3 separate regions of the Homo sapiens genome follow, and regions 2 and 3 are each linked to region 1. The links come from fine-mapping of genetic effects on gene expression. A gene starts in region 1. Each other region holds a variant in brackets. All regions are shown on one strand. Distances are from middle to middle.

Region 1 (10,219 bases):
GAGATAACATCTTCATGTATATATCCACAATATCTAGCTATATAAAGCACTCAATGATAATTGTTGATGGCACCCAAGGAAGCTGTTTAAATAATGAAGTTTCATAATCTAATTTCAATTTATTCTTATCTGTTCAATAAACTGGTTCCCTAAAAACCACTACCAGAAAGACTATTTTTGCCCTGTTTTTTAAAAACTTCCTTTTAAAAAATGTAATTGTATTGTAGGTTTCAAAATTCCCAGTTGACTGTGCTCACATAATAATCAACTCACATAAATGGTAGGTAAAGATAAGCTTCCTACTTACCATATAGTTACCATAAGCATGATCAAACATTTCCAGTACTTGATTCCTAATTTTAAAAGAGCAGAAATGGAAAAAAAAAAAAAAAAAGGTAAGTATATTCTATTTATTATCTTTCAAAAAGTTAATTCTTCCTCATAAAAAATATACCAATAAAAACAAAAGAAAAATTTAGGTAGAAAGGGACATAAACAGAATCAGAAACTACAACAGCTAGCAGACAAGCTTTCATGAACTCACCACACAGAGCTGAGCCAAACTTTAATGATTACTAGTAATTTATGTACAATTCATCTTATAATTTTTCCTAAGAAAACTGATGAATGATAGATGCCATCATCAGAGAAGGAAATCTGATGCAGAAAAACAATGACCTCTTAACACAATTATTTAACGTATCTGTCTTGAAGCGGGGGTTTTGCTGGACAGCCCTTTAAAAAAACCATTATTATTGCCATTTATTGCTTCCCCTATATGTTCTACTAAGAGAGAGGTACACAGGTGTGTAGTGACATGAAATAACAACGCTTTATGAAGCCTCTGCCTTTGCACTTACATTGAATAAACCACTAATGCCTAGTTTAAGTACATATTTATTAATGTTTGTCATATTTTCAAAAGATACTTTTTATGATGTGCTCTACTCTAAAAAAACTGTCAAAAATCAAATAAATAGTATTCACTTCCAAAATGAGAAAACTAATGCTCAAAAAGAGAGTTGTGTGTTTTGGCGAATTCTGTTTCACAAAATCTCCGTAACCACTGTTTAAAATGGAGATGTCTGATCACTACACCAGAATTTTACTAAATCAAAACCTGTAAGGTTGCGACTGAGGAAGCAGCCTTTCAATTAAGCACTCTCAAGTTCAGGGACTTGAGGACTACAGGAAAAAGTACAAGTTAATTGTATGACCAGACAAGGCCAAATAATTAGCAAAGGAAAACACAGCTTAACAATTTTTTATTAACTTTTTCTTTTTTTTTTGAGACAGGGTCTCACTCTGTCACACCTAGGCTAGAGTGCAGTGGCACGATCTCAGCTCACTGCAACCTTCACCTCCCAGGTTCAAGCGATTCTCCTGCCTCAGCCTCCCGAGTAGCTGGGATTACAGGCGTCTGCCACCATGCCTGGCTAATTTTTGCATTTTCAGTAGAGACAGGGTTTTACCACGTTGGCCAGGCTGGTCTCGAACTCCTGACCTCATGTGATCCACCCGCCTCAGCCTCCCAAAGTGCTGGGATTACAGGTGTGAGTTACCACGCCCGGCCTATTAACTTTTCTTTTACCAAAGTTCCAATCACTGATGGCAAGAATTGAAAAAAGTGTTAAAGAAATTGCTGACTATATTTTTATTTGCCTCCTGTTATACTGCAATTGTCATTTTTAAAACTATAATCACAGATTATGAAATACTGGTAATAATAGAGCTAGCAAACAGAAAAGACCTCAGTTCCAGATCCTGACTATGAACACCAACAAAATCAAGTACACTCAAACTTGTGAACGAATTAAGTCCTGACAACATATGAATAATAACCACTTAAAAACATTTCATTATTTAAAAAAAGACCTTACCACCACTTTGCTAAAGCACTAATTCTTTGTAAGTTTACATATATATATATGTTTATATATATATAATTTTTATATTTGTGGTTTACAGCTCTAGACTCTTATCCTGTCCTAAGCAGAAAAAAAAAAGTTTAAAATGTCCCTTTCAGGAACTCATATCAATGAATGGAAGATGGAAGTCCTCTTTTTTTTCCTTCCCTGAAATGGAATACGAGATTATTACCAAGAAGTAGAAATTCCTATAATTGGCAATGGTAGTGCCTAGACATGTATATTACAAATGACATAAGCTTTAACTTGCTAACTCAACTTTACAAGCATTCAATTTTCAAGACTGTAAGTAAATCATGATTGCATACAAGGAGAATACACTATTTTCCAATCCTTACATTTATGCAGCATATGATGAGCAAATTTTAGAACACATATTTCAAAGTGGAGCTATTTAATATCATTGCTCTTACACATAGAAGCCTAACAAAGTCACATTTAAATACAGAATGGTATAATAATTACTATACTGAACAGAAAAAAAAATTTCCATAATGTTTTATCTATTCAAAAACTGGATTAAAATGTATTGGAAATCAGACCCAGTTCAAAAATTACACCACTCTTCAGTAATTTCTGTAAGTCGGCTTTTTCTCTTTTTTTGAGACAGAGTTTTGCTCTTGTTGCCCGGGCTGGAGTGCAATGGCACGATCTCTGCTCGCTGCAACCTTCGCCTCCAGGTTCAAGCGATTCTTCCTGCCTCAGCCTCCCGAGTAGCTGGGATTAAGGGCATGCGCCACCACACCTGGCTAATTTTGTGTTTTTAGTAGAGAAGGGGTTTCTCCATGTTGGTCAGGCTGGTCTCGAACTCCCGACCTCAGGTGATTCGCCCGCCTCAGCCTCCCAAAGTGCTGGGATTACAGGCATGAGCCACCATGCCAGGCCAAGTCGGCTTTTTCTAAAGTTACGTCTCCTGCCCACGTGCTATAGAAACTGGATTGTTTTCTACTTCATTTTTTAATGAAAACATAACATTAACAAAATACCCTGTTGCAAAATTTTAAAAACAAAACCAAAAAGCTTATTCCATGAAGGATAAGACTACATATAACCAGCTAAGTAATTCCACAAAGTGTAAGTTATTGAGCAATTGCTTACTATTCATGACAATTCCAGTCTTTATCAACTATTTGGTTTGTTGGTGGGGAGGGAAAGGGGTGGGGCATTTTCTGCTTTTTATCATGAATCATTATTTGGGCTTTAAAAAATGCACAGGTAAACCTAATGAATCAAAGTTCAGTTTTCTGAAAATTCCCAGAGAAAGCAGTCATATAATTGTGTATTTGTCGTTTATAGCTCTAGATTCTTACCCTACCCTTACTCAAGGGTAGAGCAATCTAACAAGCCTAAATAATTGTAATTTCACTTTCATAAATGATCTCAAAATTTGAGCTGAAATTTCAAGCCAATTTGGTTGAACTTTTCCAGTTAAAAACTAATTTTGGTCAAAAATGATTTATCCAATGACTCTTTTACAAATAAGTTTTTAATAAAAAATGAAGAAAGGGTAGTGATAGTCAAATAAGATTCTTGTGGTTCTTAACAGACTTGATACTTCTCTTCCAAGTCTAATGAACGTGCAACATACTGGAGAGAGCCTGGCTCTGGGATCAGACAGGCTTGGGTTTGAATGCTGGCTCTACCAATTACTAGCTTTGTGGCTGAACAAGTCAACCTTGGGTCTCAACTTCCTCATTTGCAAATGTGGATCATATTCATTGGGAAATAGGAAGGAGTACAGAGATAACATATGTAAAGTATTCACAGAGTGAGATATTTGGTAAAACTTATCAATGATACATTAAATTCATATGAGAGAAAATGTAAGATATTTATTAGAGTTTACCGGTAATTTTATTTTGATGGTTGATACTTCAGCTTTTTTCCATCAAGTGACCTTTATTGCTATTTAGAAACGAATACAAGACTCTTTGCAATGATTTAAAGTACATAAAGTAAGACCTGATGGTTCCACCACCCCTCCAGCCTAACCCCATGAGATAATCTTCGTTCCACTTTTTTTCTGAGCTCAGATTTTTTTTTTCTTTTTTAAAAAAAACATGGGATGATACTATACATATTATTCTACAACTTGCATTTTTTTTTGTTTTGGAAATATATTCTGGATAGGCTTCCAGTGACGTACTTCCTTCTTCTTAATGTCTCAATATTATTCCATAATATGAACGTACCCTATTGAACCATTTCCTCCAAGGAAGAGCTGTTCTTTCAAAATGCACTTTTTTTTTTTTTTTTCGAGACAGAGTTTCGCTCTTGTTGCCCAGGCTGGATCTATCTCTGCATTAAGAGTGCTTTTATTTTCTTAGGGTAGATTCTCAGAAATAGAACTGATGAATCAAAGTGTGCACAATTTAAATTTTAGTAGATACTACCAATAAGTTACAGCAATTTACACTCTCACTAAGCCTTTTTTTTCTATTCCTTAACTAACCAGAACCGTATCCTTGTGTTTTGTATTATATTTACTAATCTGATGGGCAAAAACCAGCTAGCTCCTCGTTTTAATCTGCATCTCCTACGTTTATGGAGGTTGAGTAACTTTTCATGTTTATTTACCACTTCCATTTCCTCTTCTGGCTTAACCGTTCATGCCTTTCTCCCATTTCCTACTGGTTCTTCGCTTTTTTCTTATTCATGTGTAGGACCTCGTGTATGTATTACTCTGAATTAAATGGTGTAAATAGAATTGATAATTTTAACACACTTCCAAGACGGATAAAAACTACTGAATAGGTATACTTGAGACTTTTGAATAATTTCCCCCCAAACATTCTATTATGAAAATACAGTGCAAGAAAACACTGCAAGGAAATAGTAAAATGTGTAAAGTTCAAGTTCCAATGAACGCCCCCTTTTCCGTAACAGGTGTAAACATCATTTCCTTAACTACTGTGAGATCAGCAACATTTTCCCAGTTGGAAGCTCACTTGCGCGAGAAAGCTAACCATGCTTCGGTCGACAGGCAGCCAACCGCAGAACTCCAGCGCGCAGCGATGCGGGCTGTAGCCCCCTTCTTGGGCCACTGACATGGCAGCCGCGTTGACACACCGCGCCTGGCTTCAAGGAGCCTGCACATGTCACCGGCGGCCAGGGCGACACCCCGTCAGCTCCCCCGAGGTCAGGTCGCGGGCGGCGGTTCCCACCTCCCCGGACCCTGTCCACCCCTCTAGGGTTCTCGCGCGGGAAGAGCCGTTCCAATCGCGACAGGAGAGGCCACTACGCGACCGGGTCGCAATGACAGGCACCCCTCCTGTTGTCAGCCTCACCGAGAAACCCACCCCAGGCTGCCAGCACCCTTACCCAAGCTTCTGTTTCTCCTCCCTACTCATGGGCTCGGCCCCCGCCGTCCACACGGAGGTGGCCGACACCAGGCAGAACGCGGCCGTCGCCGCCACTAGTCTCCATCGCGCTCGCTGGGGAACCGGGGACCCACAGCCCCGGCCGCCGGCTTCGCTCATGGCCCCGCGGTTCCGCGCACGCGCAGCTGCTACGCCCGGCCGGTGAGACACATTGCTGGACGCTGGTGGCCAGGGGGCTGCTAGCCGTGCCGAGACGGGGCGGGATGCGGAGTAACACGGACGGCCGCCGGCGCCAAACTGTTTCCCGAAGCCACCAAGCCGGTCCCCAGCGCCAGCGCTGCCACCGCCCTCCGCCCTCAGTATCCCGGAGCGCCTCCCCCAGCTTTCCGGTGTCGTAGTCTAGGAAACCGCCTCCCCAACGTTACTTCCGGGTAGGGCCGAAGCCGTAGAGCCTCAGGACCAATGGAGACCTCATGGGAGAGGGGCTGTCTCCGGCGACTGGAGAGGGCATTGGCCAGGAGAAGTGAGACGTGGACAAAAGGCGGGACTGGGAAGGGATCTCTCGCTTCGACCCGCCTCCGACCCGCGGAGTTGCCCCCTGAGGACTACCAGTCCCAGTGTGCACTGCTTCTTCCCCGGCTCTCCCGCGAGCCGACTCGGAGCCGTGTCTCTCGCTTCTACCCGGGGTAGGCGCGCTGCACCCTGGGACTTGCGGTCCTCCGAGGTCGCCAGTGGTTGCTGGGATCCCACCTCCCCCTTTCCTCGGCGCCCTACAGTCAACCCTGTCTCGGTGGGCTGCGGAGTCCCGGGAAACCCGTCAGCTGTTTATCTCTCTTCCTCAGAAAGTTGTTTCCCAGAGAGCTGGCTGAATGAGGCGCACTGTCCCCATGTCAGTGCTGCTGCGTTAGGGAATAGTGTTGGAGTAGTCGTCTACCCTCAGGGAAATTCCAAAACACAGTAACAGCAAAATGAATTGAGCCTTTGAAGGCATTGCGCTAAGGTTTTTACTCGCAATCATCTCATGCACTCTTCTCAACTCTGATAGAGTAAGTACCACCATCCCCCTTTTGCAGACGAGAAAACAGAGGCTTAGAAAAGTTGGTTAACAAGAGCTCGTCACACTGCTGTATTAGAATCCATCCAGCCTCTGATTCGGAAGCCCTTGCATTTAACCACCGCGCAGTACTACAAGGATGAAGGAGCACGTGGGTCCTCGTACATGATTAATAATAGTTACCTCAAAAGCTCAATGTAAGGAGAGCTGTGTGGGCTGCAAAGAAGGTTTAATGAAGGAGATTGGAACTTGCAATGAATTTTGATGACCGAGTCCCAGGTTAACTATTGGTAAAATGACACATCGGTTCCTCTTGAAAAACCACATTGTTTTTCTAGTGTGGTCATTCAATAGGTGCGGAGTTTAGGAGCTTCGATGTGATCTCTGTGACCACAGTAAATTACTTACGTGTCCTTTAAGCAGTATTCGGCGGTCTTTCTGGAAACGTTTCTTCCTTGACTTTTATCACCTTACCTCTTACCTCTTAACCTCTTACCTCTTCTCTGGCTGACCCGTTTTCCTTCATTCTCTCGCTACTTTATATTAAAATACAGGTGTTCCCTTAAGGTTTTCTTTTTGTCCTTTTTCTCTCTGTACTCTAATTATTCCTTGGTGATTTCTTCTCATAAGGATTCAGCCAACATATCTCTGTGGTTGATTTCTAAATCAATATCTGTCCTGATCATTAGACCCACATTTCCACCTCCCTAATAGAAATGTCCTAATGTCTAGCCCAAGGGTAGCTCAAACGTAAGATGTTTTCTGATTCAAATTAATGCATCGGAATCATTGTCAACTCATCTTTAGCCTTCGGGGTCCACGTGCAATTAATTACCAAATTATATAGATTTTACCTCTTCTATCTTTCAGATTATTACCTTTCTTTCTATTCCCACTTTTGCTCCATTCAAGCTTCCATTACCTCTCTCCTAAACTATTGCAGTGTCTCAATAAATGTTAAATATACTTGCTTCCTTATTCCTGCAGTTTTCTTATCTATAAAGTGGGAATAATATGGTCCTTTTATCCAGTAGTCCCCAACTTTTTTGGCACCAGGGACCACTTTTGTGGAAGGCAATTTTTCCACAGGGTGGGGGAGACACCGTTCCATCTCAGATCTTCAGGTATTAGATTCTCATAAGGAGCGTGCAACCTAGATCCCTCGCATGTGCAGTGCACAATAGGGTTCATGCTCCTATGAGACTCTGACGCAGTTGATCTGACAGGAGGTGGAGCTCAGGTGGTAATGCTTGCTCGCCTGCTGCTCCTGAGAGGCAACTGACTGGTACCAGTCCACTGCCCCAGGCTTGGGGATCCTTGCTTTTATCTACTAACGTGGATGCTGTGAAAACACATGAAGTCATTTCTGTACAATATTTAATATCCTTTATTTTTTTGCATGGATCTCCAATCCTACATTGGTTCCATCCTAGTCCTCTTTGGCAGCATTAATGTTGAAGTTACCGATTATCTCCCTGCTGCCCTACTCTCCTCTATACATGGCTGTCAGAATTGGTATTCAAGAACATCTGCAAACCCTCTGAATACCTTCTTTCTTCCTTCTAGTCTGCCCTGCCCTCAAATCCTATGTGATAACTAAATAATTCCTATTCTGTATCCTTTCCATGCCTTTGCTCACACCATCTCCTATGCTACCCCATCATCTTTGTACAACACTCAACACCTGTTAAGGCTGGGCTCAGATTCCATTTCCACAAAACCCTTCCAGAACCTTCTAGTTAGCAGAAGTTATCCTCTCTCTGTGCCTCCATGGTATTCTGTGTCTTTGTTATTGTGTTTTTCATAGTCTGCATACCCACTACATTTTAACCACATGAAAAGTATTGACTTTAGCTTATTTGTAGGTTGTCTTAGTCCGTTCTCTGTTGCTATAATGGAATACCTGAAAGTGGGTAATTTATAAAGAAAAGTAATTTATTTCTTACGATTCTGGACTGGGAAATCCAAAAACCCGGCACCGGCATCTGGTTGGCTTCTGACGAGTGCCTCGTGCTGCATCATGACATGGTGGAAAAGCAGGCACGTGTGAAAGAGGTGAAACACGAGGGGCAGCCTCTCTGCATAACAACCCATTCTGGCGGTGACTAATCCAGTCCTGAGAGAATAAGAACCCACTCTAGCAAGAAGTAACCCAGACCGGAGAGAGCAGCATTAATCCCTCTTAATCACCTCTTAAAGGCCCCATCTCCCCAGATCACCATACCAGGGACCACATTTCCAACACAGATATTCTGAGGGACACACTCAAATTATAGCATAAGGATATTCTGAAACACCTAGCACTGTGCCTCTCCTGCTGTAGATGCTCAGTAAATGTTGAATATACTTGTTTTTGTATTCCTTCAGTTTCCTTATCTAAAAAGTGGGAATAATATAGTCCTTTTATCTACTTACATAGATGCTATGAAAACACATGAGGTCACTTCTGTACAATATTTAATATTATCCTTTCTTTGGACAGATCTGCAATCCAACATTGGTTTCATCCTGGATCCTCTTTGGCAGCCTTGGTAATGAAGTTAGCTAAATCAATACATGTGAGTTGGTCTTGGCTCTTGCATAGAGAACATTACAAACTAAAGGTCAACACCAATCATATGGTATTTGAAAACTAAGAACAAATAAAATAGAAAAACAGTGACATTCAGTTATATGGAAATATAGTCAAGTCAATAATTTGAAGTGGATTATTAACAATAACACAGTTTTCTTTACCTTCCTGATGTTCCAACCCTTTATAAGAAGTCAAAATTGACTATGAACTATCATTAAGAACATACTAAAGAAGAAGTACTGGCTTTTAATGTTTAACATTTTCTAGCATATTTGTTTGTTTTCAAGTTAACGCTGCATATTTAAAGATTATAATGGGAAGCCAGAACATAATTCTTTTTCGAACTGCTAAATAATAAGTATCTTTTTTTCCCTTGTTGAAACTCAATTTCTAGCCAATGATTGAGTCTATTTTTCACTGATCTCAGCAACCTTAAGTAGAAAATCTAGTGTGACCTAAAAGCTCTAAAACTTATCAAAGGTGGAGCCCATGGAAATAAAAGAAAAATATATTCGCAAAATGCATTTCAAAAAAGAACACTTTTTTTTTTTGCTGGGTGCAGTGGCTCACACCTGTAATCCCAGCACTTTGGGAGGCCGAGGTGGGCGGATCACCTGAAGTCAGGAGTTCGAAACTAGCCTGGCCAACATCATGAAACCCTGTCTGTACTAAAAATACAAAAATTAGCCGGGTGTGGTGGCAGGCTTCTGTAATCCCAGCTACTTGGGAGGCTGAGGCAGGAGAATCGCTTGAACCCAGGAGGCGGAGGTTGCAGTGAGCCAAGATCATGTCATTGCACTCTAGTCTGGGTGACAAGAGCAAAACCCTGTCTCAAAAAAAAAACAAAAACAAAAACAAAACAAAACAGAACAAAACGTATTTAACCCCGTAATGAAAATAATGGAAATTCTCAGCTAATTGGCACTTTATGAACACTAGGAAAAATTCACTTACGTTATTTTAAAACCTATACACTTAGTGATAAAAAGGATGTACGAGTTAATTGAGAGAGTCTAGTGTTGTACAGAGGGAAAAAGACTGGTGGAAAGCACATCAGAAGAATAAGGATAGAACTTTTAAAGATATAAAGATTTTTTATGTATAAAACCCATTAAAAATGGTAAGAAATAACAGCCATTTCTAAAATGCCCTTTAACCAGTTAACAATCTGTTTGCACAGCCTTGTAGCTTATGTAAATATGCATGCTCACTTTCCTGCTTGGATGTGTCAGAAGTTAGGGAGGGATAGGAGCCCTGGGTAGAACCATATGGATTCAAAAACACAGGGAGGGGCTCCATTTTAATATTATGGCTCAGAAATAGTCCTAGGAAGCTGGGACCA
Region 2 (10,219 bases), 40 kb before region 1:
AAGAAAGAGATAATTCAAGTTTGGACAGATTGAGATTGAGATGCAAGATGTATGAGAGGTAGATGAAAGTTGAATTTAATAGTAAATTTAGGAATCAGGATTCACATACATAGCTAAGAAGTCATATGTATAAAAATGATAGCTAAGCTTGTAGAAATAGGTGACACTGTTGAAGAAGAGTATATAGAGAAAAGAATATCATCCAGATTCTTGGAAACTGTTTACATTGAGTGGTTGTGCCAAGGAGAGCTACAAAGCAATAAACAGTGAAGTAGAAAAAGAACTTTGTTTCTGAAATATCCTGGGAAGCCAAAAAGGGAAAATGTTTTATGAAGGGTTCAGCCAATAGTTACAGAAAAGTTAAATCATATAAGGATCAAGAGGCCACTTGGCAGTAATTATGCCATTGGCAGCCTAAGTAAGTAAAAGCAATGTCACAAGAGATGTCACTCCCACTGAGGCCAAATAAAATACAAGGAAGAAGGAAGAATACTCTTAAAAGAAGGAAGGATGTGGCAAGAATATGGATGAGATGAAAACTTGAGGGTGTGATGAAGTTGTGGGAGGGTTGAATTTGAGATTAAAGGATACCTGAATATGGTTCTAGGTTAAAAATTATTCAGCAAACTATGTGGTTTTCTCAGAATCAATATACTAATAAGGTAAATAATTTAAAAACTTTGTGTTATAAAAACTTTCAAAGTAAAAATCAATAAAAATTTCTCAAAAAGACATGTTATTTTTCCTAGGCACAGACAAATAAATACCTATGATGAACAAAATACTTAAGATTCAGTAGCTCTTTGGAGACTAAAATGATGTAAAACATGGAGATATGAATATTAAAACTAATTACTAGTTTTTGAAGTTATGTTGTAAATAAAAGTAACAGGGGAAAGCCAATGGACTGAGAAACAGAAAACTTAGATTTGAGTCCTGCATTTGATTATATTAACTTCAGCAAATTACCCAACCTAGCTCTGATTTATTTAATTGATTTATACTATAAAGGAGTTGAATTAGGTGACTTTCCAAGATACTTCCAAGTCCTAAAATTCTCATTCTCTCACTTTAAACAGTATATTTAAAGTGTTTAGAAAGTTGAAATCCATTATCTTATTAAAGCTAATGCGACCAAAGAAAGCAGGGCAGAGACGGTATCTAATTAGTGTAGCAATGTCTTACTTGGATTGCATGTTGGACCAACTGGACTCTCCCATCTTTGAGGTGAATCAAACTCACCCCCATCTTCTTCAGGATTTCTAAATGCTCAGGGTTAGTGGCCATGAAATCTCTGGCTCTCAGAGGGGGTTTAGCTCCACTCCTGAAACTCTCCTCTCTGCTAAAAGTAATTACAGGCAAGGCTTAAAAAACTATAAATTAGAATTGGCAAAAAACACATGTCAAATAAAAATAATGTTACTTGCAAAATTGCTAGTTTTAGAACTAGTGAAACTGGAATAACTAGAAAGTATTTTCTTACATATAATTTAGGTTAACAAGTGGTATAGCTTTCAAATATAACATTTTCTAGTTATAAAAGTTTGTATATTATCTATATAAGGCAGTATTAGTCAAGAGAACTATAACTATTTAAAGGTACAGAACAAGTTTGCTTGGGGATTTGTTACTATTGATGTTATCCTTTAAAAACACAGATTTTTCTCCCAATATTTTAAAAGCAAATCAATACTTGCATCAGTGAATAATAACACTTATGTAAAAATAATTTTTAAAAAGTCCTTGCAATGGCCTAATATAACTACTCGTCAGAAAATGAACTCATTAAGCCAATTTTAACAAGCAAGAATAAGTACTCCCTCAAAAAATCAAATCCAAACAAACAAACAAAATACCTGTATTTTCACTACACAGAAACTATAGACAAAAGGAAATTTTTTTTTTTTGAGATGGAGTTTCGCTCTTGTCACCCAGACTGGAGTGCAATGGCGTGATCTTGGCTCACCGCAACCTCCACCTCCTGGGTTCAAGCGATTCTACTGCCTCAGCTTCCCGAGTAGCTGGGATTACAGGTGCCTGCCACCATGCCTGGCTAATTTTTTGTATTTTTAGTACAGACAGAGTTTCACTATATTGGCCAGGCTGGTCTCGAACTCCTGACCTCAGGTGATCCACCTGCCTTGGCCTCCCAGTGTCCTCAGATTACAGGCGTGAGCTATCATGCCTGGCCAGAAAATATTCGATGAAACTATTCCATGAAAAATGAGTTATAGAAGTTAAAAACTGTTACATGCTGCCCACTATTATTACCTTAGTTCATAAAATAAAAGATATATTGAAAGTTTCCAAAATAATAAAAAAGATATTACTGCAAAATAAGCTTTACTATCTAACTTTACTACTAATTTTTATTTTAACCAGTGATAGCTACATACCTCAACATTTTCGGCCTATGTGAATGTCTTCTTGGCTGTTGATACATGCTCCCTAAGTTCTCTGTCATTTACTAAGAAACAACTTTGATATTAGAAAATATAAAATAATACATCTTACACTCTGATGATGCCTCTAGGACAGCTCTTATCCACCACATTTTTCAAGGGCTCACGAATACTTTGAGCATACAATGGGTCATTAGGAAAGAGGATCTGAGTATTTGGACAAGTCCAATCGAAGTTACTGTCATCCAGTTCTGTATATTCCGAGGTCTACAAGAGAAAAACATTTTATGTAAACAGAAATAATTATTTTACTTAACATAATTTTTTTTTTTTTGAAATGGAGTCTCACTCTGTTGCCCAGGCTGCAGTGCAGTGGCGTAATCTCTGCTCACTGTAAGCTCCATCTCCTGGGTTCATGCCATTCTCCTGCCTCAGCCTTCCGAGTAGCTGGGACTACAGGCGCCCACTACCACGCCCAGCTAATTTTTTGTATATTTAGTAGAGACGGGGTTTCACCATGTTAGCCAGGATGGTCTCAATCTCCTGACCTTGTGATCCACCTACCTGGGCCTCCCAGAGTGCTGGGACTACAGGCATGAGCCACCGCACCTGGCCTACTCAACATAATTTTTAAAAGGAAACAGTTAATGAAATATATAAGTGTATACAGGATGCAATAAAAGAAAAAAAATAGGAAAATGTATATATTTATTCTTACCATACATATATTTATTGAATTCTACTCATGGATTACTTTTCACTTGGAAAAATAAAACATGTAGAAATAAAAAAGAGAATAAGACATTTCATTTAAAAACTCACTGTGTTCTTTTTAGAGATGCTTTGATTTGTAGTAGAGAGCCAAAGAGGTAACAGATGAGCTTCTGTTGTAAAGATGTAATCTTCTATGTCAAAAATAATGTCTTCTTTATCAGCAAATAACAGGTAAAGATATTTAAACATTTCAGCCAAGAAGAAAGAATCCATTCTAAAATAAAAAGTCACAAATAAATATAAGTAGATAAAAATAATTTAAATGCCAACTATATGAAAGCCA[T/C]AGAGTCAAGGTTAATAATCCTGTCTATACCAACTTAGATGTTCAAAGAACTATAGAATGTATCAATCTACCAGGGGCAGAATAACCTTGACTCCAAGTATATTCTATGTTAATGAAAAAGACCAGAGGAGTTGTCTACCACACTGATACACTGAATCTTGTGAATAATGCAGACAAGATTTTTCTATAGGCCTTTCAATGAGGGAAAGTTCTCCATTTCTTCTATAGAGAATCAACAGCAGGGAGGTAACTGATAAATTTTACTAGTGAGAATCATATAAGAATCTTCCATTAAATTAGAGAGCTGGAAAAAGTCATACAAATTTGACGGAATTTATTATGTAGCTATTTAAGTGATTTAAAAAGAAGGCTTTAAATGTAAAGAAATTACTTGCATGTAATTTCCTGGCCAACATGGTGAAACCCCGTCTCTACTAAAAATACAAAAATTAGCCGGGTGTCGTGCCAGGCACCTGTAATACCAGCTACTCAGGAGGCTGCAGCAGGAGAATCACTTGAACCCAGGAGATGGAGATTGCAGTGAGCCGAGTGCAGTGTCACTGCACTCCAGCCTGGGTGACAGAGCAAGACTCCGACTCAAAAAAAGAAAAAAATAGTTACATGAAAAAAGTACAATGCAAAGTCACACGGGCTATGATTATAACATGCTAAATATTTATTTACCTGTTAAGAAGGGAATGTGGAGAAATAAAGACAGTAAAACTATATGTGTTTTTACAAATGATTTAATGTTATAATGTTTTAACAATTTAAGAAAAGTTTAAATTAAAAGTGTCAGGAAAAAAGCATAGCTGGTAGATGGAGTCATAGTAACATCAAATTTAATTCACTACTCCCCAAAGCATCATAGGTTTTGGCAGTAATAAACAACTTCTAGTTTACTGGACAAGTTGCACAATTTCATACCTCTGGCCAAGCACAATTCCTGGCACACAGTAGGCACTCAATAAATGTTTACTAAATTAAATGCAAGTTTAAACAGCGTGATTAAAGAATGAGCTGGAGAGGGAGTAGAACAAAGAAGTAAAGAACATGGGCTTTGGAAATAGAAAGATCTTCCACTAATTAGTTCTGTCACCATGGGGATATTATATAAGGACTATGAGCTTCAGTTTATTCTTCTGTAAAAGGAATATAACAATACACTCATGACATTGGTGTGAAGACTGAGATATTAAATGTCAATTATTTAGCATAGCACTTGGCATACATATGAGATTGAAACTACAGCTATCATTTTTCCTACATACACATGATTTTTTATTTTGGAACAAAAACTCACCTGAAATGTTTCAAAACATGTTTAGCCATTTTGGATATTAATCTTTTTAGACAATATAAAAACACTTTCCTGTTTATCTGCAATACACTTATCATAATTCAACCTTTTCTGATGGACTGACAGTTATTACATGAGCAAATGCTATCTTGAGAACTGCAGACAGATGAGCAGGATACTGATAATTGGCAAATACTAGAATAGACAATTTGTAAACATTTAGAAAAGAACAAGGCATGGTAAGATAACTACAATATGAATTGGGCAAAGCTAGCAAGTTGAACATCAGATCATATGATCTATTTTATATTTTAAAATCATAAAAATACATAAATAAAAATACACAGGCATTAAAAATGTCTGGAAGCCTTTATAAAATTGCTAACAGTGGTAATCTTACGCAGTTAGGGGACAGTGTCTTAGCAAATATTTTCCTATTATTTTTGCCATTTACATTCTTTTCAGTAATTATGATTAGGAAAATACAGATATTTCCATTGTGAAAAGTGTGTGTGTATGTCTGTGTCTGTGTAGATGATGGTAACCTGGAGGACAGTGATAGTGCTTAGATCTATAGGGTAATAAACCACCACATGCAAAGAGCCTGTAACTGAAAGCTCTTGAGTGCAGTGCCACAAGGCACTGGTTGGGGTCCAACCAAAACTTCTTCCTAACAGTTTGGATGAAAAAAATGTAAGGTATGCTCATCTAAACTATAGATCATTGAAAACTGGTAGTTTAGCTAATGAGATTCAACCTCTAGACCAAAATCTAGAAACAAAACAAAAAAAGAAATTTTGCTGAGTTAAATATAAAAGTTCTAAGTTTACACTAAAAAAAAGAAAACTTGGCTGCTCAAAGGCAGGGTGGAGAACACTCATTTGTCAGCAGACCATACAGTTAAGTATGTGAAACTAGTTGATCACAAGCTCACTGTGAGCTGAACATAATAAAGCTCCTAAAAAATCTAAAGCACATCTAATAACACAATATGATGAAGAATGGTAGTTCTTAACCTTTCATTTGGCTAAAGACATCTGAGAGGCACAACAATCCCCTCAGGAACAGTGAGTCAATGAAGCAGTGGTCCTCAACTGGATAGAGGGTGGAAACTCATCAGCCTCATAGAACATTAGTGACCCTTTGCCTGAATACAGACAGTTATGGTGCTGTGTGCCAGACACATCTTGAGTATGGTTAATTCTGGATGTGATATTTTAAGAGTTATTATATATACTGGAATGCAATCAGAATGGGGCAATGTCAGTGGTAAGAGGTCCAGAAACAATGTCATAAAAGGAGTATTTGGTGGGGAAAAAAAGAAGGATGTTACACTTTGAAAAATAGAATTCTGAACAGTAAATCATGTCTTCCTCTGCAATTCTTCAACTTGTTACCTCTTTTGTATTTTAGAACATATCACATGGTTGTGATTATTTCTTTACACACCTATCTTATTCACTAACTACAAGTCATGGGAGTGCAGGGACTGGTTCTATTTTATCTTTCTACCCCACACTTAAGTGCAGTGGCTGGCATACAGTAGGTGTTTAATTATTGTTCTTTAATGAATTGCCAGTATAACATCATTGTCAAGAGCCAATCTGCCTAGATTAGAATTCTGACTTAATCTTACTAACTGTGTGACCTTAGGCAAGTTCCCTAACTTCTCTTTCCCTTGGTTTCTTCACCTTTAAAATGAAGACTGTAATAGTACACTTCAGAAAGCTGTTGTAAGGATCAAATTAGTTAAACACATAAAATGCTTAGAAGACTGTCTGGAGTATAGGAAACAGTCAATAAATGTTACAGGCAAATAAATACACAAGGTATCTGCTTTTATTTCTTGCTATTACTTGTATGCCTGCTTCCAGAACCTAACCATTTCTCATTAGCTGTGGTTAGGGATGGAGATTCGAAGCCTAATTAACCATTATCCGAACACTAAGTGAAGAACTAAGGGACAACTCTATGGGTAGATGATGAGTGCTGTGTTTCTCATGTCTTCAGTCTCACTGCCTGGAACTTCTTTTACATCTTTCTTCTTCTAATTCTTGGTTATCCTTCAGGACATAGGAGCCTTCAGGAACCCTTCGCTGACTATCACATCCCAACTTGTGCTTCATGCCCCTTTAATATGTTTCAAACACATATACAATGTTTTAAAAGTCTGCTTATTGGCCTGCCTTCAGTGATTCAAAGACAGAAAGGACTTATCTTCATATCTTTAATCCTCAAAAACTAGTAAGAGCCCTGGCACATAAGGGGCCTCAGTAAATATTTCTGGAATGAACATTTGCTAACCAAATGAACAAATAAGCTTCAGCATTCATTTAGAGATGTGATAACCAGATAAGTGATCTTAGAATAAGGAGAATGCTTGTGAATTTCATGTGGAGCACTTTTTATAGCTTGAATACTTCATACCATCTACATCTATCCAGTGTCTAATGAAACAGAAACTACCACTGGTCTTTCCCACTCCTGCAAGTCAGCAACGGTGTAAGTACACACAGCTTTTGAGGAATTCTTGGCCGAACACAAATCACATTCCAGATCATTCCTCATCTTGGTAATTTCTAATGTCTTATGTAATATAAAAGGAAACTATTATCAAAGAAGAAAAAAAGCCACATTTTAGATAGTCCTAACACCAAGGTTCTGATATTTAACAATCATCGATTCATTTATTTAAAAATCATTTGAGCACCTACTATATGCCAGGCACTATGATAAAAATACAAACTTTTCAAACAAATTAAAATTAGTGTATTCAACAGAGTTTAAAAAAGTAAACACAAGGAACAAAGGTTTCTATCCTTTGTAAAAGAATTAAACTTATTTGAATCCTAAATGGTAGCTGCATTTTGTGTTGTTTCAGAGAGACCCTGAGGAAAGAGGATGTTAGCAATTGTTTTACCTGTCCTCATGACTTCCAGTACGAACATCCTTCATGGCAGCAAATCCGCAAGGCACTCTAGCATATTTATTTAAATTTTCAATAAGTGTCTTCCCTACTTCAAGGTAGTAAGGATCTCCTGTAGCCTATTAAAAAGGAGAATATATGTATAATATATATAGCTTATATATTACCACATATCCATTCATTTACCAAATATTTATTGAGTACCTACTAGGTGCCAGGCACTGTATCAGGCACTGAAGGACATTATATAGAACTGAGTTCTGAAAAAAAGCTATGAATCTGCTTTACAGAATTTCTTAAATACACAATTATAAAATTTAACTATATAACCTTAGTTTTTAAATTTCTAATGCTCAGAAAGGCTGCCTGAAGAAAGGCAAGAGACATGCTTTAGAAAGCAGCTCTAGAACATAAAATTTCTCTTTAAAGAAATGTTTACATAATATTTTTTAAAGAAAAAAACCTTGCATGTCAATTCTTGCATCATTCAATAATTCTATGGACTAGATGAATAAGAATCATGATATATCCAATCATTATAATATTAAAAGGGGACTCTGAAAACCCAATTACTATTATGAAAGAATGAGAGATCCAACAGAGAATGGAGGCTAAACTTTAAGTAAAATGGGGTATATTTTCTTACTTTATATAAGAAGTAGGTACTTTCTGCAAATTCTGGCCTTAAAGGATGTTGAGCCCAGTGTACTCTGAAATCTGTGGTAAATGCCTGAACAAAACAACATACAAAAGGCATAAAAAATGTGATTAAATACACAAGTAGTTCCAGAATATATAGAATATATATAAATAGGTAAAAGCAATTAAAATAGCAATCAGGACATTTTCATCAATAAAACATCAATTTTCATTGCTTAAAATAACAATTCATTTTGCAAAGGCTGCTATTTTTACCAATTAAATTGATTATTTTTTCAGTGATCATTCTGGCTATTAGAAAACTCAGAAAAACTCCATAATGAAACTCAGCAATGCCACTACATGGGTCCTGGTGGTAAACATAATTGTGTTTTCTTTTTATCCTTCCCTCTACTTTTTCCTCTGGATTATTACTCTCCTAGTTCTCATATTTATTTTTAAATTTTTTAAATCGACAAATAAAAGTGACATATATTTATGGTATATGACATGATGTTTTGATATATTTATACACTATGAAATGGCTAAATCAAGCTAATTAACATATGCATTATCTCACATAGTTCTCTTTTTTTGTGGTGAGAATACTTAAAATCTCTCTTAGCAATGTGTAAGCATACATATTTCATATTTTAGCTTATATTTTCTAAAAGCCTCAAATCCTTTGTGGAATAAGACAGAGCATTATTTAGAAATAAATAAAATTAGTCTATTTGAAATTTATTCAATAACATAATCAATTGGTTTTTAAAAGAAAATAAAAATAAAAGCAAACAAAAACTTTTATGGGAGCTAAATAAAAATTTCATTTGTGATAGATGTATTAATTGAAACCTCAGTTTATTCTGTATGGATATGAATTTTCTACAATGCACAGTCCTACTCACCCGAAGGCTAATAAAACTATACTTTCCAAAACAAACACTTTAGGAACCCTTCTAAGTTGGTAGAATGCTTAGATATCTCACAGAGGGTAGTCAATAAGCGGGGATAGAACAAGGCCATACACACATTTGGAAATTTTTAACGGTACATTTCTGGGAAGCCAAAAAGTATGCTATTAAAATCTTGTCATATTAAGCTAGCAAGAATATTTATTACTAATATGATGTATAAAAATCAGGAAGAATAATTCTCAATCAGCATGAGGAAGAGATGGCATTCTATACATTTCCAGAGGGCATGTGTGAACAACAAAAGTATATCTAATATATACTGTTTTCATAAGACAAGCTTTAGAAAATAAAAAGTGACAAAATCTCCCTAGCTGGTAGGTACATACAAGAGTTAGAATGAGAGAATATTACAATGGCATAAGTTAGGAAGAGTTGAGAAGAACTAAGCTGGGAATTTTTTTACATAAAATTTTAAAAATGTCAGCATTACCCTAAATCAGACTTCTCTTAACACACAAAGAAAAGCAAAAACATATATAATACTGTACAAACCAAAAATAAACTATTTAATAGGAAAAAAATAAAAAGAACCAACAAGCCTTGAAGATGACATTTTCTACCTTTATATTAGCAACTTATAGTGTATATGTGTACGTGTGTGTGTGTGTGTGTTTGTGTGTGTGTAAGATTATTCCAAAAATTATTTGCTTACCTCTGGTAGAAAATTGTGTTTTTTAATCACCTGATATAACATTTCATGAGTTTCAATAGCAGGTCTAATATCCCCCTTTAACACCTAGAAATCAACAACAATAAAATTACCTAATAAAATATGAGCTGATTTTATCTCTAATCATTACATAAACAGAAAAATGTATACAAATACAATTCTGAACTGCAACTATGTTTTGTAGTTCAGTTTTAAAGATCAAAAATGCGCCTAATTAACATCATCATCTTACATTCATATTAAGAAGA
Region 3 (10,219 bases), 54 kb before region 1:
ATGTACTTTAAATCATCTCTTGATTACTTTATAATACCTAATACAACGTAAATGTTATGCAAATCATTGGTATACTGTATTGTTTGGAGAATAATGACAAGAAAAAAAATCTCTGTATGTTCAATACAGATGCTTTTTTCTTCTTGAATATTTCCTATCCACAGTTGGTTGAATCCATGGGTGCAGAACCCACAGATACAGAGGGAGAACTGTAAGGAGATTTGAGAAGTTTCTTCAAAAAGTTCCTTCAGAAAGTGACACTTGAGCTGGGGTTTAAAGTATAAGATAATGTCAAAGAAGGGAGGGAAGAGGATTTATTTAAAAACCAGAAAAAACAAAGGAAATGTAGACATGCAGGAAGGTGTGGTGGGTATTGCTGGGGCACAGAAAACAATTCCCCAAAATATGGTGCTTCAGCATGATGAATGCTTGGAAAACTGAAAGGTCTCAGAAATAAGCCTCAGAACCAGTCTGTCTCTGACCTTCCCCTGCCTCCCTGTCTCTCTGATCCTCTTTCCTGAAGCAACTGGGGGGATTCTCTCTGGAATTTTCTTATCTAAGGAAGCTTCTTTCCAAATGAAATGCAATTGTCTCAAGAATCCCTCCCTAGGACTCTCATCAAATAACGAGAAAAAAAATGAGCCATCAGAGAAGAGTAGAGACAGGGGTCCTCACCACACCCAAACAGACTTTTCTTCTGTTCTTCTGAGGACAGCTGAGAGATTAACTGGGGGACTTTATCTAGATACTATGCAAAGAGAATCCTTTACCAATCATTGTCTAAGCACTGGACCTCTTCATTCCCTAGTATTCCTCTACCCTAAGAAGAGGGTATTTAAGCTTCAACCACCTGTCCCCTTTCATATTTTGTATGGCTCCTGTGCACACACGTACACATAATAAAATTATTATGCTTTTCTGTTGTTAACCTGTTTTTGTTTTTTTTTAACCCGGGGTGTCCGCTGTAACCCTTTATGATGGGGAGGAAAGGATCACCCCTTTCTGCCCCTACAATGCATATATGTTCACCCTGATTAGATGGGATTACTTGACTCTGAAAGTTTACATTCTTAGGGTTTTTTTTCCGGAGGGGAGGATCAGCAGGGGGTGGATTGAGGAATTCCACACAATCTCTGTCTTCTAAGCTGTGAAAAAGGTACAATTTAATTAGGCAATTAGGGAAACCAATGGTGCAGACCAAAGAAAGAAGGTAGCTGGCTACTTACAGCTTATTTATCCTAGGTTCCCTAAATTCAAGAGAGAACAAAAAGAAAAATCTCCAAGTTTCTTTCTAGATTGTATTATTCCAGATTAGAAGGAGAGGAAAAGGTGTAGGGTTGTTTTACCTGGTAATGAAGATTGTGCTTGTGATAAAAAACTCTCCTAGGGTTACATATACGATATTATTTTGGAAATCTAGCTGATGTAATCGGACAAGAAAGTAGAATAATCAATGTAAATATAGAAAAAGATCAAATTATTTGTATTTTCAGATTGTGATCGTACACTGTCAAAGCAACTTTAATAAAAAAATACTATTAGAATTGATAAAAAAAATTTGGTAAGAAGACTATGCAAATACCAATAACTCCTTTGTAGTAACAATAAATAGTTAAAATATAATCATTAAACCTTTTCATAATAAAAAGCTACAAAACATAGAATTAAATTTATTATAAAAGGTATAAGACCCACGTTGCTTAAATAAAATCATAATGAGAACATAAAACAAGATTTGATTAAATTTATAGGTATATTCTTAAATGAAGTCTTAATATTTAACATTTTCCTAATTTATATGTAAAGTATGCAATTATATAATTTCAAAATGAATCTCATTTGTACTTCTTGTTTTCGTTTTAGAACCAGATACAATTAATTTAAAGTTTCTATGGAACAGCATATGTCAAAGAGAAGCCAAGAAATTCTAAGAATCAGTGAGGGGAGAGTTGCCCTATCAGATAATAAAATATACTCAAAACAGCAAACTTTTATTATTGGCAAAGGAATAAACACATTAGTAGAAGAGAAGGGTAAGTCTAGAAGCAGATCCAACTATGCAAGAATATTTGATATATAGCAAAGATGGTAGTTTAACTGAAGGAGAAATGAGTGGTTTGCTTCATAAATGGTATTTAGTAACTGACAACTCAATTGGAAAGACTCCTAACTTTTATTTTAAAATTCCATATGATTTAGAGACCAAAATGTAAAAAATGGTAAAAATGCCAGAAGAATTTAGGAAAATATTATGTAAAAACAGGATGGAGTGATCTTCTGAAGTGAGACAGAAGACCCAGGAGCCTCAAAGGAATTAATATTTCTGATTACCTAAAAATGTTATGAAAGTTACATAAACAAAGTGAAAAGATGACATGTTGGGAAAATTGTGTGTGTGTGTGTGTAACCTCTGTCCCTATATGTGTGTCTTTTCTAGATAATTTATAGAACCTCTATTTCTTTATGAGTATGTATGTAAATATAGGAAATGCGCACACACACAAACAGAGAGGTCCTATAAAATATCTAGAAAAGACACAGAATCTTATTTAAAGAAGGCAAAATGCAAAACATATGACTAGGCAATCCATAAAGAGAAAAAACAAAAAATATACCTATAAAGGGAAATATGCTGACTAAAATAGGAAGAAACATGTACTCTCATATCTTGCTGGAAAGGATGTGAATTGCTACAACCTTTTTTGGAATGCAACTTGCAACATCCATTAAAATGAAAACGACCCATATACTTTCTGCCAGCATTTCATTTTAGTAAATCTCAATATTCTAGAAAAAGTATGCATATCTAAGAAGATATGTACGAGAATGTTACCTACACCATTGTATACAGTGGCAAAACAAAAACCTGGAAATAATTTGGACGCCTAATAGTGACATGGTTAAATAAATTATGGTACAGTGATAATGCAAAACATAATGCAGCTTTCAAAAGAATAAGTTATGCTATCCTACTAACTTGGAGGAATGTCTTTAATATAGCTTTAACTGTAAAAGGCAAGTTACTGAATGATACATATATTTAGAAATGTATAAAGCACTAAGAAGAATATAAAAGATTACACATCAAACTGCTAACATTGGTTGGTTATCTCAGAAAGATGAGAGATTATTTAAAAGTTTTTAATACACTTCTGGATTGTTTAATTTGTTACAAGTTTAATTTTATAAAGTTTTTAAAAAGATACCAATAACTATTCTATGCAGCACTATAGGAAAGTCACCAGGGGCCAACTAAATTTAAATGTAGAGAAGCAGAGAGAGAGACAGAGACAGAGAGAGAGAGACAGAGAGAAGAACTTTGAAGAAGATGCCCATGGAAGAAAATATTTTGGTTTTCGCAAGCTGAAGGAGCTATAGAACCAGAAATAAAAGCAACAATCAGGAAAGTAAAAATGGCAGTTAGAGAACTACAAAAAGATAGAAGAGTTAAAGTCTGCCACATTGCTACAAATCTTGATCCTAAGGTGCCTGTTTTCACCAGTATGTGAGATCAAAGTCGTAAGAGCATAACAACCACAATATTAAATTCAGGAATGGTACATCAGAAACACAGAAAGAATGGAGAAAATCTCAAAATACAGAGAAACAAAATCAGTATGTTTTAATAATAAAAGAGGAAGTGAACCTTGGCAAAGACTTAGAGATTGGATGTTTTAGAACCATTCATTCATTCATTCATTCATTCATCTGTACATTAAATGTTTACTGAAAGCAAGGAATATAGAGATGAGAAGCAGGTAAAGAACTATTTAACTATCATAGTAGAACTGTATTAAAAGGACACCCTTAAATTTTACCTAGGAGGTGGCATTTGAAATTTAGGATATCTAAATGTTCTCAAAGAGGAAAAGGGCCATGGGAGAGGAAAAGGGATTGATAGGGAACTTCCAGAAAAAGGGAAGAGATGGCGCAAATGTGAAAATGCATGAGAAAACATGTCTTGGATGGAGAAGGGAAGGTTAAGTATCAATTCTGCTAAGAAGAATGTTTCAGATGTTTCTCTCCAGGTAGAGTTCATCTGCATATGTACTAGATTTTTCTCCTAGGAATCAAATCCTTTCCAACAGCAACTTAAGGTGTGCAGTTCAGCTGTAGAACAGATTCACACCAATCAAATTCAGTGGGGGATAATCAGGAAAAGTGACCCTGCCTGACTTAAATCAGAGCATTGCAAATGATGGAACCTTTTTTTTTCTTTCCTCCATTTTCTCTGTCTGGCTCTTTACCAGATAGAGACAAATACAGTTGCTTGAAAGCATTTGTCTAGAGCCCTTAAGGCACTATAGGCTTACACTCTAAGCTGCAAGCATGACAATGAATTGGAACTTAAAAATGCTGATGTTTTTTTCCCTGTGACAAATACTATTGAAAAAAGGAAATTTACTCTTAATTGTAAACTGCTTCAATTTGGACCTAAAGGTAACAAAACATTGCCTTTTGTTTGTGGGCACACGGTTGGAATAATTAAGTACCTTTACAAACTGAAATTTTGGAAAAATGAAACACTGAGAGATATGATATTGAAAATTCTGTTCAACAATAGACTGTGGATAGCTTAACTTTCAGAAGTGTCACAGGTTTGACCTAAGGAAGCAACATCACTTGATAAAATGCTAATGCTTTTTGGCTTCTAAATGTGTATTAAGATGACCAGAAAATTTCTGCTAGCAGAACAGTTTCAGATACATCTATACTAATGGCATGGACTTATCAGAAGAAGAAGACAGGAGTGAAGGCTTTTTAAGGGCTTCTATTTTCTGTATTAAATATGAAAAGGACTTCTTAATCAGCATTGTGTGACTTCATATGGAAAAATACGTATTTGTGGAATGACATTTCTAGAAAAGGCAATCTGGAGAACATTTTATTGTTCAGATTTTAAGGATGTTGTTACTTAGTGTACTTATATAATCTGTTAACTAGTACCTGTAATGGTACAATATGGCCTGATACATAGCTGGGAGACAAAAAAGGGGTGCTTTCTGAATCTTGTTCAATATTTCTCAAAGTGTAGCTGAGGAAGCAGCTACAACACAATCACCCGGGATGTTTGTTTGAAGTTTCAGATTCTGATTCCCAATCATAAAGTCTGAATCAGAAAGTCTGATTGAATATTTGGAGCAGGACTCAGAAGCCAACACTTCTAACAAGTGTATCTGTTGATTCTGATGCAGGGGAGAAACACTGATGTATGTAGTAATGGTATAGGACAAATGATAACCGCTACAGACTGTGTAGCTTCTTAGGATATCCTAAGTGAATACATTTGTTGATTTCATAACACTATTACCATTGATTTCTGTTACATTAATAAATATTAACAATTAGACTGTATCTTGTTGCTAATTAATATAGCTGTACAGTTCTATAAAGAGCTATTACACAAAAAGGGGGCTTTTCAATACTTTTATCAAAAGATCACTCTATAACAATCACAGTTCAATAAATTTATAGACTAAAGTTTTCAAAAAATATCTTTTAAATAATGCCCTTTTAATGCAAGGTCCTTAAGGGGATACTGTTCACCAAGAATTCTTATTTTCTGGTAGAATTAATCATGTCTCATAACCTTTCTCTGGTACAGGAAGCACATGCTGTACCATAATCCTGTAGTCCTAACCCATGTACCATACACACACATGAGCTTTTAAAACAAGTCAATACTTTAAATATTTTACATTGTGTTCAAATAAAATGTGATCAAAGTAATAAATACTAAAACAACAATGCCTTTGTTAGAGTGACTCTTGTATGGACATAGACATAGAATTCATCTATTGTATGGGATGTATAATTATTAGAATTTAAAATTATTATGTGACTGCTGACTAGACATGAAAATAATCTAATTACGTTACACAAGATATTATCATGGTATCCACTGAAACAAAATTATATATGTACTTGAGTGTGTGTACACACACCCAAATACATATATACGTATATAATTTAAGGCTTGTTAATGCAAGATACTTACTACTATTAATAATGTAGCTTGGAATCATTTTACCTTTTAATATTGCTGCTGAAATTCCAGTGGTAGCACAAAATAGGGGGAAAAAAAGCAAATGCATTAAAGAGTTACAAGAAATAATAATTTGCCTATGTTAGATGTGCCTAAATGCATATATGTAGGCAAGAAGATCTGAGTTTAGAAAAGGGCCCAGGAAAAAAAAATCAGGTATACAGAGGATTTAAGACTAGAAAACCTTTGTATTCTGTTCTGTTTCCATCTATACATTGTTATATACAAACAACCTACTTGCTCACTCCATTGCTCATAAATAATTGACATTTCAAAGAATCTCAAAGAAGAATAAAGCAATACAAGAAGACAAAATTAGGCTAGCATGATTATGCTAGCATGATTATCACCGAACATTTTTTTTTAAATGTCCCACTTGGAAGTCACATTGAATTGAATCAGTTTCCTACATATCTGTCAAACACCCCAGGGGATGTAACAACCCTGTACTATTATGCAACTTCATCTATTTAAGGGTATGGGAGAACTTTAGCTCTCTCTTCAGGTCTCTCCAGCAGACAGGAAAGACTGCTACCACAAGCAAGATCTGAAGGCTCACATTCCCTCATTTCTCCTCTATCCCTGGGTGTGAAACTATGTAAGAATACTAGTAAGGCCTTGCATTTATATTGTAATTTGGGTTTCAAAGACATTTCAAATTACTAACAAACATTTTGGCCTACAGAGGACTATCTACTCTCATAAATTAAGACATGCTATCTTGTTTTTCAGAAACAGCCATTTGTAACTCTTATATCCATGTGATAAACTTAGATCTCATTGGGAAGAAGCTGCTAGATTTCTATTGCCTTCACCAAGACAGCAGTCATTTGATTATAGGTGGCCTGTTGAGACTAACTACTATGATATTGTATACAACATTCTATATATGTCTTCTCATTCCTTATAAAAGACATGTAAGATGTAGTATCAGTGAAATCAAATTGTGAACATTTCCGGATGTTAAAATGGCTTTCCTGAAGCAGTCTCTTGTATTTTTATCACCTGAACAGACTCAGGGCAAAAATTACAAATCACACATAAAAACATATGTCTAAAAACATCCTAACTCAGAAAACAAAGCAAAATAAATGTTTTATTATTCTTATTTCCAAAAGAAAAATATATTTTGAAATCATCTTCTAAAAGTTTTACTTGTTTTCACAGTGAACCCCCCAAAACAATTTTTTGTGACTCATTCTTGTTATCAAACTAGCAAAATTAATATTACGCTGCATAAAAAAACAAATGGTATTTTACTCTTACCTCGATCTTTTGCTTTATCAGAGAGGAGCACTTCTACCTCCTCATATTCCCGGATGGCATCCAGTATGATACTTCCTTCTTTGCTGAATAAGAACAGCATGGGGATCTTGATGTCATCTGTATCCTTTCCATCACCTGCCATCTGGAACAGAG[G/A]GGCAGTATCACTGCTGCTCCCCTCATTGTCATCTAGCCAGAAAATAAATACAGCAAACATCAAAATATCCAGCCATTAAAAAGATCTATCTACTAATTGTTACTGATTTTTTACAATGACAGAATTAATTTTATGCATCAAGAACCATAAAAACCAACATAATTTTTGGACCCATTAATTCTCATAGAAACGTATCCAAAGGAAATAATTCAAAAGTAGCGAAAAGCCCTATGCCCAAATAATTTTACTAGACTATTTATAATTGTAAACAACTGTACACCATTATAAGTAAATTATAATGACCTACTTGATAGGACACACAGAATAATAATACATTTAAAAAGTAGAATACAGAATTCTATGATTATGACTATAAAAATTTCATATGCTTATGGAAAAGCCTAGAAAGGAAAAAATCAATGACTCGGATTACAGTGATAGAACTATGAATGAATTTTATTGTTGAAAATTTCCACTACTGGCATGATTACATTGTTTTACCAAACTAAAAATGGACATTTCTTTTTTATATAATGCACACAAAGAATAGTTATGACTATAGTGCTTCTTCCTCTATAAGCTAAACTAAACAGTATTGCTATTTTGCATTGGTTAAATAATAGTAGTAGAACTATTAATAGTAGTAGTACCAGCAACATGCTGTTTTACTGAAGACGACAATCACGACCACCTCCAAATCGCATGCCAGTCTCCCAGAAGAAACTATCTGTCCTGTCTCAGGGTGCTCACTCTCATAGGACCTGCTAAGTGCAGAATGCATGACCCATCCTCTTGGTAATAATTGATTAGACAAAAGATGGCTACCTGACCCTGAGTCTCTCTGGGGGACCTGGAACTGGCACACAGAAAGACTGTTTCAGTTAGCAGGGGGTAATAGTCCAGTTGAATGACACAGACTTAGGGGCTGAGGCTGCAAACTAGAATGGCCATTTTGGAACTGAGGAACAAAGAGAGAGAAGGCTGGTGAGAAGCTGGAAAATGAAGCAGAATTGCAAAGAGAAGCAGGGAAGAAAAGTTCAGAAGGACCCAGAGGTAGAGATACAGAGAGAAAAGTGAAAAACATTCACTATCATGGATCCTGGTGATTTTTAGTTCCCACTTCTACCTCCTGGTGAATCCTAGTTGTATTTGTACTGTTTAATTCACTAAAAATAATCCATTTCTGTGTAGTGAAAAAACCTCCCTTCTTAAACCAACGTAATTATCTCCTGCAGCCACATGATTTCTAAGATAATTCGTATTTCTAACCCTTGCAACAAAAAACAGCTAATTCCTAATTTATTCATTTATATACAATTAAAACAAAAACAAAATGCTTTGTCAGAAACAAAAAACTCAGGAGAAAGAAGTCAACACAAGAAAGTTTCTCATTAAAAATTAAATTTTTGGCTGGGTGCGGTGGCTCATGGCTGTAATCCCAGCACTTTTGGAGGCCAAGGCAGACCACTTGAGGCCATGAGTTTGAGACCAACTTGGCCAACACAGCGAAACCCCTTCTCTACTAAAAATACAAAAATTAGCCAGGCTTGGTGGCACGTGCCTGTAATCCCAGCTACTCAGGAGGCTGAGGCATAAGACCTACTTAAACCTAGAGGTGGAGGTTGTAGTGAGCCAAGATCATGCCACTGCACTCTAGCCTGGGTGACAAAGCAAGACTCTGTCTCAAAAAAAAAAAAAAAAAAAAAAAAAAAAAAATTTCTGAGAGTAAGGATCATCATCTCTTATTTATTTATCCACAGAACCCAGTATACCATTTTCCAACTAATAGCTACCAAAAAAAACATTTGACGGGCCAGGCTTGGTGGCTCATGACTGTAATCCCAGCACTGTGGGAGGCCAAGGCAGGCAGAACACCTGAGGTCAGGCGTTCAAGACCAGCCTGGCCAACATGGAGAAACCCCATCTCTACTAAAAAGAAAAAAATATATATAAAAATTAGCCAGGCGTGGTGGCAGGCACCTGTAATCCCAGCTACTCGGGAGACTGAGGCAGGGAGAATTGCTTGAACCTGAGAGATGGAGGTTGCAGTGAGCCAAGATCACGCCACTGCATTCCAACCTGGGTGACAGAGCAAGACACCATCTCAAAACAAACAAAACAAAAATTGACAATTATTGCATACTATAGAAGATCATGAGAATTAGACTTCACTGAAAAATATAAAAAACCAAAATACTACACAAAGAAATATTTTTAAACATTAATGCATAAATTCTACACTTTATACTTTACATTTTCATTTTGAAGTCTTGGTAAGAACTGTTCAAAATGATAGTGATGGTTAATATAATAAATTCTGCAATAAAACTAATCTAAGTGTGGGAAATACCCAAGGATAAAGAGCATGATTTAAGTCAGGGGTCGGCAAATCTCTTCTGTAACTGGCTAGATGATGAATAAATATTTCAGGCTTTGTAGTTCTCTCCTGTAAGTACTCAACTCCATCACTGCAGTTCAAAGCAGTCATAGACCATACACAAACAAATTGGCATGACTGTGTCCCAATAAAACTTTTATTTACAAAAATGGGCAATGAGCTGGATTTGGCCTATAGTCTTGTAGTTTGCCAACTGCTGATTTAAGTCATTAAACAGGACTTCTCCTAATGTTTATTAATAAAATTTATGCATCCATTAAATCAACATAATAAGTGTTAATATTCTGTTTTACCTGAACTATTTTTTTTTATTTACCTTAACTATTGGGCGGCAGGGGAGGGGGGAATCCAAAAT

Evidence for each region.
Region 2: its variant is fine-mapped to the expression of EDEM3 in whole blood (INTERVAL, PIP 0.93).
Region 3: its variant is fine-mapped to the expression of EDEM3 in whole blood (INTERVAL, PIP above 0.99). The same link has a PIP of 0.9 or more in fibroblasts and lung.

What each region holds. Positions count from the first base shown.
Region 1 is chr1:184,749,240-184,759,458 of GRCh38, forward strand. EDEM3 (ER degradation enhancing alpha-mannosidase like protein 3) reads right to left here and starts at 5,619. Exons shown (of 20, transcript NM_025191.4): 1 at 5,250-5,619; 2 at 308-353. The coding sequence starts at 5,407. LOC105371649 (a long non-coding RNA gene) reads left to right here and starts at 5,935. Exons shown (of 3, transcript XR_922357.4): 1 at 5,935-6,294; 2 at 8,785-8,860. RefSeq lists enhancers at 5,203-5,302, 5,773-5,872.
Region 2 is chr1:184,709,209-184,719,427 of GRCh38, forward strand. It overlaps EDEM3 (ER degradation enhancing alpha-mannosidase like protein 3), which reads right to left. Exons shown (of 20, transcript NM_025191.4): 11 at 9,954-10,037; 12 at 8,332-8,415; 13 at 7,680-7,804; 14 at 3,225-3,390; 15 at 2,515-2,669; 16 at 1,186-1,339. Among named protein-coding and RNA genes, the nearest start is that of EDEM3, 41 kb to the right of the region's middle. The variant T/C (reference allele first, on the strand shown) is at 3,460.
Region 3 is chr1:184,695,499-184,705,717 of GRCh38, forward strand. It overlaps EDEM3 (ER degradation enhancing alpha-mannosidase like protein 3), which reads right to left. Exons shown (of 20, transcript NM_025191.4): 19 at 7,313-7,498. Among named protein-coding and RNA genes, the nearest start is that of EDEM3, 54 kb to the right of the region's middle. The variant G/A (reference allele first, on the strand shown) is at 7,466.